Linked DNA regions of Homo sapiens: region 1 is linked to region 2. Evidence: fine-mapped expression QTL. A gene starts in region 2. The other region holds a variant in brackets. All regions are shown on one strand. Distances are from middle to middle.

Region 1 (2,908 bases), 24 kb after region 2:
GCAGAGGGGGGACCTGGCCAGTGTTAAAGCTTCTCTGCTGATCCCAGTGCCTTGAAGGTGCTGTTCATTCTGTGAAGAGTGGACTCCTGGCAGGCGTCCACTTCTCAGTACAATGCTCCCTCAACTTGTGCTGCAGTTGGCCTTGGTTCCTCCATCACGGACCACAGAAAGCCTTACCTCTGCTCGGCTGTCCGCCCCTCGGCTTCCTTAGGACCTCTGCCGGGGGAGCACACTGCGCGGGGATGTGGTTTCCCTGTTCTGTTCCCTGGGAGGAGCACGCTGCGCGGGGATGTGGTTTCCCCTGCTGTTTGGGAAACCTGCCCGCAGTTATTTCTCCTTTCCGTATGCTCAGATTCTCCCCTTTTCTCTCTTGCTTGCTCAGTTTGATGCTTGCTCAATTCTCATTACCCGAGAGCAGCTCTCCCTGGCCTCTGCCTTGCCTCCAGCTACATCTCGCCGCACCCACTACCCGTCGGGCCCAGCACACAAACTGAATGGCCCGAGATGCCACCGTGATGGTCTGTTTCTGATTCTCACCATACCTTAAAACTCCCTTCTTTTGTTCTGTCACACTCGTACTTCTCCCCATTCTTATCTTGCTGGTCTTTGTTCCTTCCACTGGCCCTGCTTCATTCACTCCTCAGTGTTTACTGAGCACTGTGCACCAGATGCTATAGACTTGGGGACAGGCTTGTGCCTAAAAACACGACTTCAGAAGCCTGACGAATGGGGGCCCAGATCACAACACACGTGCTTGAGCTTGAGACCTGTCTTAAAGAAAAAAAATTGACAACTCTCTGAGGCACTAGTTCAATTTTTTTCTTGACGGCATCTAGCGCTGTTGCCCAGGCTGGAGTGCAGTGGTGCCATCATGGCTCACTGCAGCCTTGACTTCCTGGGCTCAAGCAATCCTCCCACCTCTGCCTTCTGAGCAGCCAGGAGTATAGGCATGTGCCACCACACCTGGCTAATTTTTATATTTTTTTGTAGAGATGGGTTTTCACTATGTTGCCCAGGCTGGTCTTGAGCTCCTAGGCTCAAACAATCTGCCCACCTTGGCCTCCCAAAGGGCTGGGATTATAGGCTTGAGCCACCGCGCCCCACTGGTGTGTAATTTTAATCCTAACATCATTTGCCTGATGTGCAGGAAGTCAGTACACTGAGACACTGGGGATTGCAGCAGAGACGGAGCTTAACACCCAGAGGGGAACTGAACAAGAGACAGAGGAAGCCTTGAACGCGCCTCTCAGAGGAGTTTGGGGCTGGGGATTTTAAGGGTTTCGGAGTGGCCGAGGTGTGGGAGTTGCTGATGGGTTGAAGAGTGCAGGCTAAAATCATGGGATGGGGGGATGAAGAA[C/A]CTGCATTCTCATGCCGCCTCAGCGCCCTGTGGGAGCCTTTGACTGGTTGATGTCAGCTGTTCTGCTGGAATTGAGGATCTGAAAAACATATTAAGCAATGTTTAAAGCCTTATGGTTCTAACGTCAGTGGTCCTATCTATGAGAATAATGGGGGTGCAAATGATCAGTATCCAGGGCTACAAGACTTCCAGTTACAAGGAAGTGGGCCAAAGTGCAGCCTGATTCATGCTTAGTTATGACTCCATTTCTGCCCAGAACCCGGCGTGTAATTCCTGCTAACCCATTGAGGACAGTTTGAGGTTCAAGAAGATATTCTAGAAATAAAATAAAAACAATTTTTTATTAAAAAGAAAAATAAGAAATAATATAAAAACATAAAACAATCTTTTATTAAAAAGAAAACCAAGAAACAATAATCTGATAATAGAGGCCACCAAGAGAAAAGCTAACCAGAAACAAAGATGGACAGTGAACTATGAGTGGGGAGGGGTGAGGCCAGCCCTTCTTCTCATTAGACCTTCCAGTTGGTTTACTTAGAAAGATTAGTGCTAAGGAAAGTGACAGCAAAGAAGTTGAAGGGGAAGAGGCAATGTAGAATGTCAAAAAAGAACACTTCCTGGAACAGAAGTCCGGAGTCTTCCAGTCTGAAGGCTCAGTGGGTGGCTGGCAGAGGCCAAATGAAAGTGGACACACACCGAGACACTCTTGTGAGATACCAAAAGTCCAGGAACAGAAGATTCCAAAAGTGACATGAAAGAACTACAGGTTAGTTAACAAAATGGCATCAGACTTTAGAGCTAGAAAATAGAAGACTATGGCAGTGCAATCCCTTCAAAGTTCTGAGGGAAAGTGATTTTGAGCCTAGAGTTTTTATGTAGACCAACAATCAAACACAAGTGTAAAATAAAAACAGTCCAGCCAGGATTCAGGAAATTTGTCTCCCAGGCATTCTTTCTGAGAAGATCATTTAAGAATCTACCTAATGAGGCCCGGCACAGTGGCTCACGCCTATAATCAGCACTTTGGGAGGCCGAGGTGGGTGGATCACCTGAGGTCAGAAGTTCGAGACCAGCCTGGCTTTTTCTCTACTGAAAATACAAAAATTAGCTGGGCGTGGTGGCGTGTGCCTGTAATCCCAGCTACTCAGGAGGCTGAGGCAGGTTAGGAGTTTGAGACCAGCCTGGCTAAATGGCAACACCCCATGTCTACTGAAAATACAAAAATTAGCTGGGCGTGGTGGTGTACCTGTAATCCCAGTTACTTGGGAAGCTGAGGCAGGAGAATCGCTTGAACCCAAGAAGCAGAGATTGTAGTGAGCTGAGATCGTGCCACTGCACTCTCCAGCCTGGGCAACAGAGTGAGACTGTCTCAAAAAAAAAAAAAAAAAAAGAATCTACTTAATAAAACCAGAAGACAAGAAAAAGAGAAGACTGAGATCCAAGGAGTGGAACTACACAGGAATGCAGAGAAAATGGGTTCCAGGATCACAGCTATGCAGGGGCTCAAAAGCCAAATGATGTGGCCGGAAGTAGGGGTGCATCGAATTGTGC
Region 2 (2,908 bases):
GCCAAGATCCATTCACTCACAGTAACAGAGTTTTACAGCTGGATGGGACTGAGGGATTTAAAGAAGTCAAGGCAGATGTGTACAGGAGTGTATTTCTATATCTACTTAACTCACACACACTCCCCCAGCTTGATTCTACATCACCTTTCAGATCCTGGCATTTAAGATAATCTTCTCATATTACGGGGGAGGGCGGCGGGGGGAGGAGGTGAAAGAATAGTGTTGGCGGGGGGCAATCCGGACTGTCTTAAAGAGACAGCACACATCCTCTTATTAAGACAATAAATGAGAACGAAATTCACTAGTCAATACAATATTGAGCACCTACTGCCCATCTGAGCTCTATAAACTGACAGAAGAGAAGGGTGCTTCCCCACGTGTTCCCTGGTCCCGCATTTCGGCCTACAGGAACGGCGCTCTTTAAACTACTTACTAGACATGAACATTGCCACCGTGAGTCTGAGGCCAGCTTTCCCTCATCTTGTCTACTACGGAATCTTGTGAAATCCCAAAGATAACTTTAAAAATTATTTTAACATACATGTGAATTCACAATAACATAAATACACTCGCATCTCCTCCACACCGCTGAAAGAGGAGAAAGGTTCAAGTACAAAGGTGGGGAATGCTCGCACCGGCTTCTCCCTGTCCTGGGTGAAATCCATGTTGGGAAGAGCTTGATCTAGGTCACCCACCCGGGAGCTGAGACCACAGACGTCCCTGCCACCTTCGGCGGCGCAGCCTCGTCTAGATCTCACCGCCTCAACTTGCCAGGAAACTTAACGACCTGAAAGCACCAGACCGCCGAGCAAGCCATCGGAAGTTCCCTTTCGCACTCACCACCACAGAAAAACTGAGTTCAGTGAGACAGACCTTAGAGGAGCCAGGTCCTGGGATGAGACCTCCTGGTCCCCCAAGCACCTGCCATTGAGCTCCGCTCCGACCCTACGACCCCGAGAGAAACACCCGCCCGCGGGCAGAGCCGGCCGGGACCAGGAGCAGTGGGTGCGGGGCGACCCGCGGGACAACGACCCGGCAGTCCCCCGCCCTCAAGACCCAGGGACCTCGGCTCCGCCCGGTCCCGCCGCTCCCAGGCCCCGCCTCGACCCCCTCACCGAGCAGCAGCAACAGCAGTAGCAGCAGCAGGGGTCGCCGGGCGCTGCCGGGGGCCGCCATGGCGCGAGGCGGCCGGGTACGGTGCGGGGAGCGGGGGCGCGGGCGGCGGTTGGGCCGCGGACTGCCGGGCGCTGCGGTGGCGGGGCGCGGGCGCCAAGGGCTGGCGTTAGAGACAGCGGCGTTACCAGACGCAAGAGGCCCGGCCACTGCGACGCCGGCACGAAGAAGACACCGCGGCCGGCAGCGCTTGTCACGTGAGCTGCGCCGCGCCCGGGCGTCACGTGATCCCGCGGGTCTCGCGAGAGCGCGCGCGTCGAGCGCCGGCGGCTCGGCTCCCCGCAGGTGCGGCAGCTTCCAGCACCGCGCGCCCCCTCACGCGTGATGCAGGCCGACACGTGACCCGCAGCGGCACGTGACCCGCAGCGGCACGTGACCCTGGACCCACGTGACCCGGCCTGGTCCGGGGGACTGGGGCCGAGCCGAGGTCCTGAAACGGGAAGTGGGCTGGGTTCGCGGAAAAGGAAGAGGAAGAGTAGTGGCGGGAGAAAGTGAGGAAAGAGGAAGCCCGCGAGGGGAGAAAGGGCAGACGGATCGCGGACGCCCAGGCCTCCCTTCAGCCTGCGAGGCGTCCCAAACGCGGGCTCTTTATGGACAGGAGGGTGGTGTGGGTGGCAGCGCGGGTGACCGGCCGGGTGCGCGGCCAGGGATGGGCGAAGGGTTTGTCTTTTGGTGAGTGGGAAGCAAGTTCCTCACACAGGGAGGCCACTGTGCCCAAACTCTTGAGTGGTTTTAGGAAGGAAATAAGGGATCTGAAATGGGTCAGTGCGGCCTTCCGCTCGTTAATCGCGGGCTGAGGGAAGACGGCACCAGGCTGCCCAAGGTGAAGGTGAAGGTGCGATGGCGATACTCTTTGGCTTACAGAAAGTTCCTGTCGAGCACTTTGTTTTTTTTTTTGAGACGGAGTCTCGCTCTGTCGCCCAGGCTGGAGTGCAGTGGCGCGATCTCGGCTCGCTGTAACCTCCGCCTCCCGGGTTCAAGCGATTCTCTTGCCTCAGCCTCCCAAGTAGCTGGGATTACAGGCGTGCGCCACCACGCCCGGCTGATTTTGTATGTTGAGTAGAGACGGGGTTTCACCAGTTGGCCAGGCTGGTCTCGAACTCCTGACCTCAAGCAATCCACCCGCCTCGGCCTCCCAAAGTGCTGAGATTACAGCCCTGAGCCACGGCGCCTGGCTCCTGCATTTTAGAAGTCTGAAGATGCTCTGTTTTTTGGCTTGTCATCATATAGGATTTATGGCCTTTTGTTAAAATACTATTTAATTAAGGCCCCTACGCTACTGCTTTGTATAAAGCACCCGTCGCATAAGTACCTACATCTTAGAAAAAGATTTAATCTTACATTTCAAAAGGCATCATAGCAACGGGGACTGGATGTGCACCTAGTTAATAGAGACAGCACTCAGCCAGATAAAGACAGGACCAGGCACTCACTATCAGTCCTCACCAGAGGACTGTGACCTTAAAAAGGGCGGGATTTGACCAATTCAACACTGGCATTTTGATAGACCCCACCTTGCTGTCACTTGTGCTTAGCACCCTGCATCTGCTGCCTAAGGATCTGCTCACATCAAGGACTTCCTTGGAAGACAATGACTTCTGTCTGGATCAGGCTGGAATACACTCCTTGTTCCCGTCATTGCTTTCCTTGGATTGATCCATTAACCCCTTTTCCTATCCTCTTTCTCTTGATGTCCAATGTTACTTTGTTTGATGGGGAATGTTTAAACCATAGC

The links.
Region 1: its variant is fine-mapped to the expression of LAMP1 in lung (GTEx, PIP above 0.99). The same link has a PIP of 0.9 or more in T cells, blood mononuclear cells, macrophages, monocytes, monocytes after LPS and monocytes after Pam3CSK4.

What each region holds. Positions count from the first base shown.
Region 1 is chr13:113,271,343-113,274,250 of GRCh38, reverse strand. No RefSeq gene overlaps it. Among named protein-coding and RNA genes, the nearest start is that of MIR8075, 9.9 kb to the right of the region's middle. RefSeq lists an enhancer at 1-269. The variant C/A (reference allele first, on the strand shown) is at 1,358.
Region 2 is chr13:113,295,703-113,298,610 of GRCh38, reverse strand. LAMP1 (lysosomal associated membrane protein 1) reads right to left here and starts at 1,372. Exons shown (of 9, transcript NM_005561.4): 1 at 1,116-1,372. The coding sequence starts at 1,176. RefSeq lists an enhancer at 552-731 and a silencer at 962-1,241.